Linked DNA regions of Homo sapiens: region 2 is linked to region 1. Evidence: fine-mapped expression QTL. A gene starts in region 1. The other region holds a variant in brackets. All regions are shown on one strand. Distances are from middle to middle. Region 1 holds the start of PDCD6-DT (PDCD6 divergent transcript). Region 2 overlaps SDHA (succinate dehydrogenase complex flavoprotein subunit A).

Region 1 (8,332 bases):
GAAAAGTGACTCCATTGGGACCACGGTGAGAGGGTCCCGATACACAGCTTGGGTTAAGCCACTGATTTCAAAGTATCTCAGGAATGGTGGACTCAGCACCCATCAGGCAATTCTCTCAAGCAGTCTCCTGGTAGATATTTAGTAGCAGCTGAAATCAAGATTATGTTCTGATAGACACTTGCTGATGGTTAAAGAGCTATATACACTTTGAGGACCAGCTGAACTGGGGCAGGACTAACTCCCTCTGGTGAAAATACAGGAACCCAAACACACAAGTCAGAGCAGGAGGTGTCTCCCCCACCCCCAAACAATAATGCTGACCTTGGATTTGGGTTAAGTGCCTAGCCCAGCGTGTGAGTGTTGAGTAAGTGGAAACCATCATCACCATCATCAGGTAATGGAAAACCATCAAAGCTTTGAGCTGGCTTGTTAGCCAAGAATAGTACCAGTGTATTAGCTACTACTAATACTCACAGCTGACAATTACTGAGCACTTGCTCCGTGCCAGGAATCACGGAAACACCTCGCATGCATTTCCTCAATACTCCCTCCCAGTAACGGCGAGGACACAAAACTGGTAGAGCCAGGACTGGAATCCAGGCAGGCCCCAAAGCACTCCAGTGGAGCCTGCCAAGGTGGGCAGGCTACCATACTAATGCGGTCCAGTATTTGACCACCACTCCTATTTGAGCAAGTTTAACAGAAAACCTAAAACTAAACCTAAAATCTAAAAATTAGAGCAAATGCATAAAAAGCAGGCTGTTAAAATGGATCATAAATCTTGCATCACTCATTGGAAAACCACTCAAAATAAATGTCTCTGAAACATGGCCTCTGAGGAGGGCACTCCGTGTGGCTTGTATCACCCTGGTGACAAACCACTTGAACCTGGATGGTCATCTGACCATATTTAACAGGTGATGCACAGAGCCATTTGCATCCACTGTGGTCAACATTTAGGAAGTTTTAAGCTGAGATTTGCCAAATTGTAGCCTACTGGATTCCGGGTTCTCTTGACATCTCTTTCTAGTAGCCACGTCTTGCACTTCCCGAGTAAAAACGAACTGAGATGCAAATAAAAAAAAAAAAAACGAGGATTTAAGAATAATGAAAAGAGAAAAACCAAGAAAGCACAATCACTAGTGTAGAGATAACAGCATTTCTGAATTCCCTGAAAACAATCTATAGAAATGCATGTGAAATAATACACCAGCATCTGTGGCCCACACGCCACATATTAGGAACTGATGTCGTAATATAAGGTAAAAATGTTACTCTGAAAACACAAATCCTCACAAATCATTAGGCAGTAAGGCTGAATCCAGCACCCCCCCACCCACAGCGCAGTGAGGCAGTGTCTAGCAGCCGTAGTGCTCCCCGCGCCCCAGTTCAGTCTCTGGCAACTTCAGATACTTCCCACTAATAACAAGAAGCCTTTCAACATTTTCACAACATCTCAAAACTGACCCCTTTTCTAGCTTAAATGGCACGGATCTGGAAAAGCAAACTATACACAGAATCAGAAAAGATGACTGCCCCTGAGGGATTACAGAAAAAGTGGCAGTCAGGTTTCAATGAAGTAAAATGTGTCCAATGATAGCGGAGGGGAGGGGGATCAACTGAGCTGAAACTGGCAAGAACGTAATTCCAGGGAGCTCACAACACGCAAGGACCCGGATTTCCCGCTGCCTGAACGCCCAGTATTCGCACACTGATAAGAACACCTCCCCATAATCCCCTGGCCAGCGCCTCCAACACCCCCAATCCTTTCCCCAGGAACCCAGTCCCAGTTTCTGCAGTTCCTGTAACAGCCACATTCCCATACAAGGGCTGCCTGAGCTCCCCAAGCCCTCCAACAATCACCCCCCAGTGCCCTCGAAGGTCTATTCAGAGAAGTCACCAAGATGCAGTCACCCAGGAAATTCAAGGACCTCCAACTTACCAAAAGGCTTTCGGCTGTACAGAGCTAAGCTTCCTATTCCCCTCCTAAACCTACAATCTAGTTTTCATTTCTCAAGAAGCCTTTCCCTGTGCTCACGCACGCAGTTGTTAGCTGGCTCGGTGAGGCACTCCAAGCAGTAACAGCGGTAGCCACAAAATAAACCAGAAGCATCTCCACTACGAAGCAGTAATAACAATTTGTCCTAATGATTCCTTTGTCCTTGGAAAAACAACTTCAGAAAGTTATCCACTGTGAACAGGGCAGGCTCGCGGCTTCTTGGTCCGGAGACCCAGTTCCCACTGGCCCACTCACCGTTGGAGAGAGCTTGCTGAAGCTCGGTGTCTGATATCACTCCACTCCTGTCTTTATCGACCCTATAACATCAAGAAGACCAAATAAGCTGGCGATCGAAAGTTCAGGAAAAGCAAAACAAACGTCTTCTGTCAACCCTGCACCGACTCTGGAAGGCTCCCTCCTGGAACCTCCGCCTCTCCCGTCCCGCTGAGGAGTACAGCGGAATCAAGGAAGTGCCCCAGGAGCCGACGTCCAGTGTGGTCTTCCCCTAAGAGGACAATCATCTTCACCTCAATCCTTCCCTTCCTTCCTCTCCTGGCCTGTCTGAATTCCCATTTGCACCCGTTTCCCTTTTTCACAGACAAGACAAGATTCCCTCAGATAACTAAGCCATTCCCTGGCCATCAGTCACTACAGTTTCGGACATTCGGTGGAAAAGCGACCAGGGACAGAAGGCGCCGCCATAAAGGTCACCTGGCCCGAGCAGACGCCAGGTCGCTGCTTCTTCCTTGGCTGCTGACATTTTAACAGCGCCCAGGCAGTCTGTTTCCGCTTTCCCCAAACAAGCACCCTGGAGACCCTCCACCTGGCGGCTCTTGAGGCGAGAAAAAGGGCCTAGCCCAGGAGCCGGTGGCCGCGACCTCGGGTCTGCAGTGGCGCACTCTGCATCTTGGGAAGGGCCCGACGCACAGGACAGGGACCGGGCAGGAGGCAGGGGCGGCCCCAGGAGACCGGGCAGCGGACGGGGGAGACCGCGGGGGACCCGCCAGGGGACGGGGGCGGCCGCGTCGGCTGGGGCAGGGGTCGGGGGCGGCGGCAGGGGACGGGAGGGGGCCGCGGGGGACCCGACAGGGGACGGAGGAGGCCGCAGTAGAACCGGCAGGGAACGGGGTTGGTCGGGGGAGTCGGGACAGGGGTCGGGGCCGCCGCGGCGGAGGCGGGAGGTGCCCGGGCGGTGCCAGGCCGCACCTCTGGAAAACGTTCCACAGGAAGCTCTGGTCCGGCAGCGCCGCGCCTGCAGCAGGCCCAGGGCCGGCCCCAGGGCCGGGGCGGTAAGAGTAGGCGGCCATGGGCCAAGGCACGCGGCTGGGCTGAGGCGCCTGCAGCGACGAGAGACCTCTCAGGCCGACTCCGCTTCCGCCTCTGCCGGGGGCAGGGCCTGGCATTATCACCACTTCCGGGGGCGCAGGAAATGCGTGGTCTCCGGGATGGTCACGGGGTCCCGCGCAGCCAATCCCCTCGCAGCTAAGTTGCCAGGCAACGCCCTGGCGCCTGCGGGGAGGGCGGGGTCTGGGCGCCTGGAGGAAGCCAGAGCTTTGGCGCAGGCCGCCTGCGCGCTGTGCCAGGAAAGCGCTTGGAGAAAATGTCCGGCCCCGCGACCTGGGACAGGAAGTGATGGAGCACGGACTTAGTTTGCCTTTCAGTTCTTGTATAAATAGTTTTGAGGTGAATGTGATTTGCTAACAGTCGGAAACTCTGGGCGGGGCGCGGTAGCTCACACCTGTGATCCCTGCCCTTTGGGAGGCGGAGGCGGGCGGAGCTCTTGAGCCCAGCAGTTCGGACCAGCCTGGGCAGCATGGATAGACCCCATCCCTACAAAAATTACAAAAAGTAGTCGGGCGTGGTGGGCTCCTGTGGTCCCATCTACTCCGTGGGCTGAGGCGGGAGGATTGCCTGAGCCCGGGAGGTCAAGGCCGCAGGGAGCCGAGCTCACTGCACTACAGGGGTGGACAGCGAGACTCTGCCAAAAAAAAAAAAAAAAAAAAGAAAGCAAAAGCAGGCCGGGCGCGGTGGCTCACGCCTGTAATCCCAGCACTTTGGGAGGCCAAGGCCAGTGGATTACCTGAAGTCGGGAGTTCGAGACCAGCCTTGGCCAATTGGGAGACACCCCGTATCTACTAAAAATACAAAACTAACCGGGCGTGATGGTGCACACCTGTAATCCCAGCTACTCGGGAGGCTGAGGCAGGAGAATTGCTTGAAACCGGGAGGAGGAGGTTGCAGTGATCCGAGATCGGGCCATTGCACTCCAGGCCTGGGCAACAAGTGCAAAACTCTGTCTCAAAAAAAAAAAAAAAAAAAAGTCAAAACACAATTCGGGTGGGAAAGGCAGTGTGCAGCATTCTCGGTTGTCTGTTCCGCCCCCAAAAGCTTCCCTCCTTTAGGTTTAACCTGCGCCCCCGTGCTCTGCATCAGCGCGGCCCCTGACCCCGTGCAGCTGGAAACACTGCTGGGCCCCTTCACACCCCTGCCTGCTGGGCCCCTTCACACCCCGGTGGTGGTGCAGCCCTGCCTCCCGCAAGACAGCACTGCCTTCGTGCTGGACACAGTTCTAAGGTGGAGCCTGGAGTGCCTGTAGCACAAATCCCGGAATTGGGAAGTGCCCAGCTTTGGGCCACTGTGATCCCTGGGTCTTTCCCACGCGCGTAGTCTCGTGCCGCCTTCCACCCCGGTCCTGTGTCCTGTGCCCCGGTTCAGAATACTACAATTATTCTCATTATTTCATGGGGTTATTTCAGCTTTTCAGTTTCTTCAGTGCCTCATTCCATGAATGCTAACTTTTTTCATCCTCATACTTCCTAGGGTTGTCTCTGAATTTTCACTCAGTTGTCTACCAAGATGTTGAATGGACCCAGAGCCAAGGACGTGGTCTTTTATCAGTGGCACCTGAGACTTTCTTCCCTGTGGACGCAAATCCATTATTCAGCACTCTGGGCACAGCTACAGATCTGATCAGCTATCCATTCTCCAAACTATCTCATCCTCTGTCCCATTTTTCTGTCTCTCTTGTCCACAAGGCATATACCTGAGAGTTTTCAAATTCCTCAGAGAAATTTAGATATTCTGTGGCTTTGGCATTCACCTAATGTGTTAATCTACAAACCTTTTTTACAGTGTGGATTTTTTTTCATGATGTGAATTCAAGTGGTTTCTAATGGTCTCTTCATAAAGTTGTAAACCAAAAGTAAAATTCTAAGGCCCCACCCCATCTGAATGGACCCCTTCTCTGGGCCAGGGCACTCCAAATTAACCTGAAAACCGTTCAGGCCACGACATGAAGTGGGGGCGGGTGGGACATGGCTGACTATGCCCTCCTCCCTTTTGGAATTCAGGGAAAGCCAACACAGACCTTAAGTCTAATGAGAAACACCATCTATTCTCTCTGAAGCCTGCTACCCCAAGGCTTCTTCTGCTGATAAAACTTTGGTCTCCACAACCTCTTATAACCCAGACATTCCTTTCTATTGGTAATAACTCTCAACTAATTGCCAATCAGAACATTTTTAAATCTACCTATAACCCAGAAGCCCCCACTTTGAGTTGTCCTGCCTTTCTGGACTGAACCAATGTATATCTTGAATAGATTTGATTGATGTCTCACGACCCTCTAAAATGCATAAAACCAAGTTGCACCCCAGCCACCTCCTGAGGTCTGTGTCATGGGCGTGGCCACTCTATTTGGCTCAGAATAAATCTCTTCAAGTATTTCACAGAGGTTCAGCCTTTTCATTGACAAAGTATTCATATCACTTGTTGAAGAATCCTTTCTAGAATCTTCCACAGCTCTTTGAGCTGTAGTTTCTGAAGTCCATCTTTATTCTCCCTCCCATCACTGGCTCCTGTTTTGTTCTCCAGAACTCTGAAAATACTAACAACTATGATTTTGTGACCCAATTTGGAAGTTCTTACAGGGAAACCTCAGCAAGAAACAGCTCAGTGCTAGACGCAGTGGCTCATGTCTATAATCCCAGTACTTTGGGAGGCTGAGGTGGGAGGATCACTTGAGGCCAGAACTTCAAGACTAGCTTGGGCTATTTTAAAATTTTTTAAAAGGGGGAGCATCTCAGTGACTGCAGCAGGCCTCAGCCTCCACTCCCAACAGTTAGTTGGGCTCTACCAACTGTTGGCCGAGTCTCCAACCTGGAGTACCACAGCCATCATCACCCATGGCACCCAGGAGTGCTCCGTCATGCTTTCCCTTTAGTTCTAGGGGTAGAAAATGCCTTCATTCAAGAGAGGACACACTTAATGAATGCAACCAGCTAGAATCCACCCTTTTAATATTTAAATATAATCCACCCTTATAATATTTAAATATGTGGCTTTGTTTAATCCTCCCCATGCCAAGGCACCATATCCACATTTTACTGAAGAGAAAACTAGAGTTCAGAGAAGGTAACTTGCCTAAAGCCAAGCAGGCAGTAAGAGGAGATTCAAGCCCAGATCCTTTTGTGCTTTTTCTGCATCATCTCAGGGGCAGCAAGGCTGACTCTTGAAAGGGAGGTTAATTACTATGAAATTAAGGTTTAAAGAAAAAACACCCTGGCCAGGCGCGGTGGCTCACAGCTGTAATTCCAGCACTTTGGGAGGCTGAGGCGGGTGGATCAAGACCATCCTGGCTAACATGGTGAAACCTCGTCTCTACTAAAAATACAAAAAATTAGCCAGACGTGGTGGCAGGTGCCTGTAATCCCAGCTACTTGGGAGGCTGAGGCAGGAGAATGGCGTGAACCCGGGAGGCGGAGCTTGCAGTGAGCCGAGATTGCACCAGGCACTCCAGCCTGGGCAACAGAGTGAGACTCCGTCTCAAAAAAAAAAAAAGAAAGAAAAAACACCCTGCGTGCATACTCATATGAATGTACAAATGGATGAGTCTAGAACAAGAGATACTAGCCTGTTACATACACAAACTATGCAGCTGCAGTCCCTGCTGCTTCTACAACCCTGACCTCTAAGAAACCTCTAGCTCTGAATCCTGTCAGTACCTGGGCTGTGCTGCTTGGGACAACATTGTCTTCACAAGTCCTCTCCACATTCTCAGAGGTGGGGGTATTGCCAATGATGGGGGTTGCTGCCTGAGTCCCGTCACCAGGGGACAAAGCTACAGCAGAGACCACCATCTGCCAACAAAAAGAGAGATCATCTCCCACCCCTGGTTCTGCTGACCCAATCACTGGAAGCATCAAGGCACCACTATCTCCTCATCTGCCTCAGATTCAATTTCCTCCTAGCCAGGTCTGTTCTAAGCTCTCCAGAAGTTGAGAAATTAACTGAAAGATAACACTTTCCTCCCTGCATTAAGGTTCATCACATAATGTATCCAAATACTGGGTCAGTCTTTCCTTTGGTCTCGTTTCTCTCAGCTAATTTGAAAATGCCTTTTCTGTTTTCATTAGAATTTTTCTAAATGTTTCTGGGCACTTGTGTTCCTGAGGCTTTCCATAGTGCACCCTCTTATGCATCTGATGTCTTTGGCACATATAGGCCCTCAACAAGTATTTGTTAAATGAACAGATAACCATCCTGTCCTTTGTGTGAACAAGCATATGCAAGTGTACATTGTATCTGTACATGTATCCAACAGCATCCATCTGAAGCCACTTTGTTCGCTTATTTTCTCAGGATGACTGATGGCTGCATCATGACATTTGCACACAGAATCTTTTCTTCTCCAGTCACTTTTCCTTTTTCCAGATTCCCGCCATAGAATTCCAGGGACAGAGCCAACCATGCCTGGCACCCCCTCCTGTCCTGGGACAATGATACTTTCTCCCGTGACTCCCATCTTCCTTCCAACATTCTTCTGCTAGAATTCAGTAAGGAAGACAATGACTTACCACTTTTAATTTTTTCCCCTTTTTTGCTTTTCTACCAAATACTGCTTTTAACACAGGCTTTTCACTGAGTAGTGGACAATCTATCAGCTAGGTGCTATTCAGTGTGAGGGGCATTTGCAAAGGTCTGCATCAGTGCTGGCTGATGGAACTTTCTAGTGATAGCATCATTCTGTAGCTGCACTGTCCAGTGCAGAGGCTACTTGCCACTGTGGCTACTGCTCAGGATGGTGCAGGTCTGAATATCTTAGACACAGCGGCCACCGTGTCTACTGCACGGGACTGAATATTTTAGACACAGCGGCCACCGTGTCTACTGCACGGGACGGCGAGGGTCTGAATATCTTACAGACAGCGGCCACCGTGTCTACTGCACGGGACGGCGAGGGTCTGAATATCTCAGACACAGCGGCCACGGTGTCTACTGCACGGGACGGTGCAGGTCTGACTGTCTTAGACACAGCTCACCTTTGATCCGTGT
Region 2 (8,332 bases), 48 kb after region 1:
GCCTGGGCAACATGGGAAACCCTGTCTCTACTAAAATACAAAAAATTAGCCAGGCATGGTGGCGTGCGCCTGTAGTCCCAGCTACTCGGGAGGCTGAGGCAGGAGAATCACTTGAATCCAGGAGGTGGAAGTAGCAGTGAGCTGAGATTGTGCTACTGCACTCCAGCCTGGGTGACAGAGTGAGACTCCGTCTCAAAAACAAAACAAAACAAAACAAACAAAACCAATCCATTCAGGAACTCAGAGGTGGTAAAAGAGACTTAAAATACTTGTTCTTTTTTTTTTTTTTTTTTTGAGATGGAGTCTCATTCTGTTGCCCAGGCTGGAGTGCAGGGGTGCGATCTCGGCTCACTGCAAGTTCCGCCTCCTGGGTTCACGCCATTCTCCTGCCTCAGCCTCCCAAGCAGCTGGGACTACAGGTGCCTGCCACCATGCCTGGCTAATTTTTTTGTATTTTTAGTAGAGACGGGGTTTCACAGTGTTAGGCAAGATGGCCTCAAACTCCTGACCTTGTGATCTGCCCGCCTAGGCCTCACAAAGTGCTGGGATTACAGGCGTGAGCCACCGCACCCAGCCTGTTCTTTCTCTTTTTTTGAGACAGGGTCTCCTGTTGCCCAGGCTGGAGTGCAGTGGTACGAACATGGCTCACTGTAGCCTCAACCTCCTGGTCTCAAGTGATCCAGGAGCCTCAGCCTCCTGAGTAACTGGGATTACAAGCATGTACCACCATGCCCAGCTAATTTTTAAACTTTTTGTAGAGACAGGGTCTTGCTATGTTGTCCAGGCTGGTCTCAAACTTCTGGTCTCAAGTGATCCTCCTGCCTTGGCCTCCTAAAGTGCTGGGATTACAGACCTGAGCCACTGTGCCTGGCCTGCTTGCTCTGCTCTTGTATGTTGAGTGTCACATATCCCAAGTTAAAACCTGGTATGTAAGATTATCGATTCAACTTTCTGACATAGATGCAAGAAGTCACACACTGCCTTAGGGACAGCTCCTCAAGGCACACGTCTGGTCCTGTCACATCCACAGTCGCTGCATGCGCCCCACGCTGCTGTTCTCTGTTGCTTTTTACGTAATCTCTGGCTGACTCACTGGGCACGCTAACCCATTCCCCACTGTCACCATAAGCCCCAGCACTACGTGTCCTGTCTCAGGTGGACGGGGGCGGCCTTACCCTTCCATATAAGGTGTGCAATAGCGAGTGGCCAGTCCGATCAGCCACACAGCAGCACCGATGGGCCTGCCCGCCCTTTCCAAACTTGAGGCTCTGTCCACCAAATGCACGCTGATAAATCTTCCCATCTTCAGTTCTGCTAAACGGCATGCCATAATTTTCTAGCTGTGAAAGATAAAAACAAACAAAAACCTTAACACCTTAAAGGAGTCAAGATATTCGCAGCTAATCTACACTAAACAAGTTTAACACAAATCTGCAAACCCAAAGTAACCTATTTTATGAAAATGTCAACACTTCATCAAAGAGAAGTTTTCTTGTTACATATAATGCATAGTTCATAACGGAAAAAGACTCTTCTTGTGAACTTTGCTCATCACCATTCTTTTGGCTGCCACATCCGCCTCAATTGCTTACATTTTTTTCCAGGATTCTTTTGTACTAGAAACAGACCACGAGAACACCCAGAGCCTCCCGCCCATCACCTCGACCACGGCGGCGGGGGCCTGCTCCGTCATGTAGTGGATGGCATCCTGGTCCCCCAGCCAGTCGGAGCCCTTCACGGTGTCGTAGAAATGCCACCTCCAGTTGTCCTCCTCCATGTTCCCCAGAGCAGCATTGATTCCTCCCTGGAAACACCAACCACTCCTTACAAGCCACAAACAGGAGCGCCAACTTTGTCTTCCAGGCCCAAATCCACCCGCTGGGGGGATTCAGAGAAAGCCAACTACTCACACAGTGACTCCCAGTGAGGGCTGACCTCAGCAGAGGAGCAGCGAGACCCGACAGATTCCAGATCACAACCCCTCCCCGACTCGCCCAGTGATTCCATCCTTAGCCTCAGTCTCCTCATCTGCGTGGTGGAGACACAGGGAACTCCAGGAAGGGCTGACTGGAGCAGTGAGTGAAAGGCTACCTGTAATATGCTTATAACCTAACCTATCTGGCACAGAAAAGGTACTCAACAAATCTTTCCAGATAATTTTATTAACAAATCTTCCCAATGGCATTTACGGGCATGTGTTAAAGACTAGAAGTGCTTCCTGCCAAGTAATAAACTCCACACTCAGAGTCGCACTCCCCTGTACCCCAGCTTCCTTTGGCTGTGTGTGCCCACCACTGTCTTACCCCTCAGAGAGTCCCAGAAGACAGAAGCACAGGGACAAATGAAACCCTTGCCCTTTTCTTCCCCAACCTAAATTCTGATTCCTCCTCTTTAGGTGATCTCCTTTTCTTAAGGTGTTGGGGTGGCGGGGGTAGGTGGGGAAGGTAGTAGGCAAGATGGTCAGAGAAAACCCAAGTGTGACTGGAGTCTGAATTAGGAGTGACAACAAGTCTCCCGCCCTTCAAAGTCCCCAGGGAAGAGGCTCCAGGGAGAGACCCCTGAGAGGGTGAGCTGAGTAAGGCACAGCAAGAGGCCATGTGGCTGGAGCAGGGGGAGGAGGCAGGGGGCTGCCCAGGTAGAAAGTGCGAGGCTGCGCGGGACCTGCACGGAGTGGGAGCACAGTGGGGCACCTTTCTCTTACCTGTGCTGCAACAGTGTGTGACCTGGTAGGAAACAGCTTGGTAACACATGCTGTATTAAACCCTGCCTCAGAAAGGCCAAATGCAGCTCGCAAGCCTGCCCCTCCAGCGCCTACCACCACTGCATCAAATTCATGATCCACTACTGGATACTGAGCAGAAATCTGGAAAAGAAAAATTCACCTGTCAATCACATGTTCCACTATGCCAAACATGAAGAATCTTGTGACAGTGAAAGAGCTTGACAAAGATAAAAGGAGCAACTGCTGGGCACACAGGGCCTCCATCCTGTCCTGGGGCTGAGCCCTGAACAGTTCGGGGAGAGGTGGGCACATTCGCACCTGGAGAAGGGACTGACAATCAGATTCTACGAATGGTAGAGGGTCTATCCCATGGGGTCAGACTGAGGACCACAACTCTACTTCAGGGCCGTGCCTATGCTTATGCCTGAGAAGGTGCCAAGGAGTATTCAGTCGCTATTGTGGGCTTATAAGAAAACAACTTCTCAGCAAGTTTCAGTTTTTCAACAGAGATAGGCTCACTAAATACAAAGCAACCCACACCCGAGGGGCCCCACCATCCTATTTTCAGTAGGATTTTATCATCTATCACAGCAGATACTGTTCACTGGCCCCACCGTCCTATTTTCAGTAGGAATTTTATCATCTATCACAGCAGACACTGTTCATTTTATTTTAATTTATTGCTTTACTTGATCTAAATTTAAATCTAGTTTATAGATACATAACAGATACAAGTAAAAATGTAAACATCTATGTTTATATTTGTACTTGCAATTAAGTATTATTACACTGAAAATAATTTCAGCATGCATTGGATACCTATGAGAAATTTTTCCCTTATGTCTATGACTCATATGAAAACAAACTGGTATAGATCCTTACCCCCTAAGCCAAAAAAATCATTTATAATGGAACAAAAAGCATGAACTTACGGAATCTGAAACTTTAGCAGATGCCCTCTTGTTCCCATCAACAGTGAAGTGAAAACCTCGGGTTCCTGTTTGCAACACTGTTGGCCACTGGAGACACAGAAGACACAGATCCAGAGGGTTAGTGTCCTGAAGGAACAAATGCTGTGGGGGATAGTAATTTCCCCTTGCAAACTGTTCACCTTCTTATGTACCCAGGTGCTCCTGTGCATCCAGAGAGCTCAGCTGGGACCCTCTACTTAACCCTGAAGGCAGCCCAAGGGGCAAGGAA[G/A]GACTGAGCCCCCAGGTCCTCGTTTCCACCCTGACTTGGCACTCTAGAAAACCAGGATGAAGCTTGTTTCCAAACAGGATACTCACTGACTCAGATACGAAATGAAAAAGGCACACTTCCTCTGTGAAGTCTTAATGTATGCTACTTAGTGGAGAAGGGGAAAGACGTGTATATTGTATTACTGTATGTGGTATTTTGCAAGTAATGAAGCATTTTAACTGGCTCCATCATAGCCCTTTCCACATTACAGTTCCAATCGTCCAGGAGGGCTTGTGGTCAGTTCAAAAGGCACTCAACATTGAATCAGGAGATCTGTATCCTGGAACAGTAAAAGCTGACAGCCTAGAGGGACGAGGTGTCATCCCTTCATCACACAGGAGGATGTCGGATGCACACTCTCCCCTGCCTGGCTGCTGCTGGCTTTTTCCTGGCCAACATCTACAACTTGACACATCTTGCTGCTTAAATTTTCCATCTTAGAAAACTTTACCCAAGAAAACTGGTTTTGGTGTTTAGTTTTTAGTGGCTCTGTGTGAGAGAGGTGACACTGTCCATATGCTAAGGTTGGCCAGCCATTTAGGGGATACGTTTTCCATTCTGCTGGCTACATTTGAGAAGACCACTGAATAGTCTCAGAAATATCATCAAGAATAGTTTTAGGGGCTGGGCACGGTGGCTCATGCCTGTAATCCCAGCATTTGGGGAGGCCAAGGTGGGTGGATCACCTGAAGTCAGGAGTTCAAGACCAGTCTGGCCAACATGGCAAAACCCCATCTCTACTAACAATTAGCTGGGCGTCGTGGCGGGCACCTGTAATCCCAGCTACTTGGGAGGCTGAGGCAGGAGAATCGCTTGAACCCAGAAGGCAGAGGCTGCAGTGAGCCTAGACTGTGCCACTGCACTCCGGCCTCGGCAACAGAGAGAGACAACGTCTCCAAAAAAAAAAAAAAGAAAAGAAAAAAAAGCTTTAGGAAATAAATGCAATCAGAAGAGGGGATGTGAGGAATGTCTTCAAGTATTTAGAAATACTTGCAATTCAGAAATTACTTATTATGTGGGATAAAAAATTATTCTTCATTTCTCCAATTTCTAGTCTCTGTTTTTATTGGTATAAGCTAATTCAGCTTTTTTCTTTTTTCAGAAAATGAATGAGAAAGAACAAATATTCTTCTACCTTAGTAAAATTTTTGCATGGTAAAATCATATTTTAAGAAAGAAGTCTTTGAAATAATTTTAATACAAATGTTCTTGAAAATGTTGTAAAGTGCCCTATTAACATAGTAATAGCACCAGTAAGAACAGTATATTATACCAAATGTAAGTAGAAACAGTGAGATCACTCAATGTTTATTCGTTCTTTCTAGGATGTTGATGTGGAAGACCCACTGCCCACCCCCCACCACACACACACAGAGCTGGCTTAAAAGGGGCAGCTACTATAACACAATCTTGAACAAATTATCACGCCATCCCCCTGGCGAAAAGGACACTAACCCTCTCAATCTAAATCTAATCTGGGGCAGATTTTTGAATTTGGAAAGCCCAACTTTAAGCCAATTTCAGTCTTTAGATAAAACTCAAAACTAGTTTTGACACAAAACTAGTCTTTTGTGCCAATTGTTAATTTTTTTAGGAGAAACTATCAAACATTTCCTCAAGAAAAAAAATGGGGAACATATAACTAAAAGGAATACTTAGACCTTGCTTAACAATACAGAATTTCAGATGACTGAATTAGGAGGTGGAGGGGAAAAGTAAGAAGTGCAGAGACATTCATATCCGAAATCTAGCAAAGTAAGGGGTCCTCATCTAATACAACGCACCTATAAATCACGAGCAAGAAACTAATCTGCATGTACAACCTACACAATCACAAAAGCAGCCAACGAAGAACCTAAAAACGCACGACTGTATCAGGAAGAAGCGGAAGCAGGGTAGTTTAAGTGAACTAAATCCCCTCTCTAGGCAAGAAGTCTAAAACTGATAAAAATGCACCTGCATATCCGCTAAAGAAACAGAGGTATTACAAATGCCAGGAGTCAGTATCAGAAACAGGAATTGCTTTCATGGAAAATGAACTGGGTGAGGGAGGGTATACTCATTGATTCTTTTACAACTGCGTGTAATTATTCTCACTAGAATTTTAGTGTTTATTATTTTAAAAACAGGGATACTTAAAATACAGTTCGGCCGGGCGTGGTGGCTCACACCTGTAATCCCAGCCCTTTGGGAGACCGAGGCGGGCGGATCACGAGGTCAGGAGATGGAGACCATTCTGGCTAACATGGTGAAACCCCGTCTCTACTAAAAACACAAAAAAATTAGCCGGGCATGATGGCAGGTGCCTGTAGTCCCAGCTACTCAGGAGGCTGAGGCAGGAGAATGGCGTGAACTCGGGAGGCAGAGCTTGCAGTGAGCCGAGATTGCGCCACTGCACTCCAGCCTGGGTGACAGAGTGAGACTCTGTCTCAAAAAAAAAAAAAAATTCAGTTCACACATGGTTACTGTGCATAGGCTGTGAGCCCTGGTTCTCAAGAGCATCACCAAAGGTTTCAAACATTACCCACAGAATCCTCACTAACCCCACGGAAAGACGGAGCTCAGAGAGGATTCAAGTCGGCCGGCCTGGCTCTGGATCCTGGACTTGCCCCCCTATCTAAAGACCCTTGGGAAAAATCTCTGAGACTCCCAACTAATATTAATATCCAGGTTTCATATCAAAAAACAAGTCACAATTTTTCAAATAAATCAGGAAAAACATCATGAGGAATGCAGAATGGAATGCCATTGTTGTTACAATTATCCCAAGAAGCAAAGCAAAGGTTTACTACTATAATGGCCTAAATAATGTATTTCTAGAACACCATTAAACATATTCAGAACAATCCATTCAAAGAAAAGAAATCAATTTGTCCTAGAACAATATATTGGATGTTCATGTTAAGGGATTTGAAAAACTTCACCTGAAGTAAGCAGTTAACCAGTAACTATTGAAGTTTCTTGGTTTTCTTTTTCCTCTGATTAAACTGCTTTCGAACAGTTTGCAAGCTGTGTCAGTGCACTGGGCCATAAAAAGAAACCAAAAGCAAAATAAGTCTGATAAGTTCGTCACTTGAAAGCAGTTGTAAATACAGAATGATCAAAACACCACAGAACTGGCCAAAATGAGGTTAAAAAATTCTCTCTGGACTTTACTGAAATTATCCTCAGCATCTATTTTCCAAACACATTTCTCAGTTGGCTATCACGAATTTCTTTCTTTTTTCTGCTAATTTTTTGATTATGCTGTTCCTTCGTAAACTCCAATTCTTCAGGAAAAAAAGCCTATCTGAAATGCCGATAAATATGCTGCTTGCAGGCAGAATTTCTGTAGGAAAAGCTAACTTCATCAAGATAAAAAGACTTTTACAAAACCCAAGACTAAATTTTGGTTCAATTTTGCTATCTTGCCATCCCGTCTGAGGTGCCTCCGCCGCTGGCAGGGTCTTAGTCTGCAGAAGGAACACCGGGCACCATCTGGGTTGAGGACAAAGGCACTAGCTCTAGCTTTTCTCCAATCACAAGCTACCATTTCCCCTAAAAAGCCCCACTGACCATGGGCTTTCCTTCCTGCTTGTGGACGCCCTCCTAGCAGCTCTTAAAAGCCCAAGATGCGGCAGGGGTCTCTGCTCAGTCAGTACCAACCACAGCAACACACTAGAACGGTTTACACGCTTTCTGATGTTGGCAGGATGGCTGTATGACTAATCCTCACATTTAACTCAACGAGATTTTTAATAAGTATTTCAAAAAGGAGAAAATTGCACAATTACAGGCATAATTCAAATCAATATTGCTGAATGCCTTGGTTCCTATTGAGATTTTTATTCTGCAATTTAAAATTACTTTGTAATTAAGGAGGTGGGTGGGTAAGTTCATTTAAAAGAACCAAACAACTAAACCTATCCAATTTAGCTTGATTAAATAAAACCCTAGAAGGCCGATTCTTAAGATGCAATCGTAGAGGGCACATTCAGACACTCAGAGAGCAAGGGCTCAGGGAAGTATAACCCTGACCACCATCCTGGACTAAGCCGAGCCCGGCCCTAGAGGCACTCAGCGCACAGGCAAGCACAGGTCCCGGCGTCCTCGCCCGGTCAGTGCGCTGAGCTCTCCGCCTGAGTTTTAAAAACTGGCACAGCTGCTTTTAAACACTGGCACATTTTTGGTGGCATAAGGACCACCAAACACGACCCAAAGTAGAAGCCCTTAACTTACAAGGTCTCGAAGTGGACATGGACAGATTTGCGCTTTCTGGAAAGGCGAACTGCAAGCCTAAGCTCGGGCGCGCCACGCTTCCCACCGGACGCCCACCGGGCCGAGCCCGGCCACTCCTCGCACCCACCCGGGCGGTCTCACCCGCCCCGCCGG

What was found.
Region 2: its variant is fine-mapped to the expression of PDCD6-DT in whole blood (INTERVAL, PIP 0.96).

What each region holds. Positions count from the first base shown.
Region 1 is chr5:266,695-275,026 of GRCh38, reverse strand. PDCD6-DT (PDCD6 divergent transcript) reads left to right here and starts at 3,503. Exons shown (of 2, transcript NR_104613.1): 1 at 3,503-3,682; 2 at 4,820-5,471. It overlaps PDCD6 (programmed cell death 6), which reads right to left and starts at 3,381. Exons shown (of 6, transcript NM_013232.4): 1 at 3,206-3,381; 2 at 2,255-2,316. The coding sequence starts at 3,306. PDCD6-AHRR (PDCD6-AHRR readthrough (NMD candidate)) reads right to left here and starts at 3,381. Exons shown (of 13, transcript NR_165163.2): 1 at 3,206-3,381; 2 at 2,255-2,316. It also overlaps a transcript of SDHA not described here. RefSeq lists a silencer at 3,089-3,298 and enhancers at 3,589-3,678, 4,340-5,032.
Region 2 is chr5:218,891-227,222 of GRCh38, reverse strand. SDHA (succinate dehydrogenase complex flavoprotein subunit A) reads right to left here. Exons shown (of 15, transcript NM_004168.4): 2 at 3,655-3,741; 3 at 2,702-2,863; 4 at 1,661-1,804; 5 at 1,176-1,340. Among named protein-coding and RNA genes, the nearest start is that of SDHA, 4.7 kb to the right of the region's middle. RefSeq lists a silencer at 8,293-8,332 and an enhancer at 8,085-8,332. The variant G/A (reference allele first, on the strand shown) is at 3,923.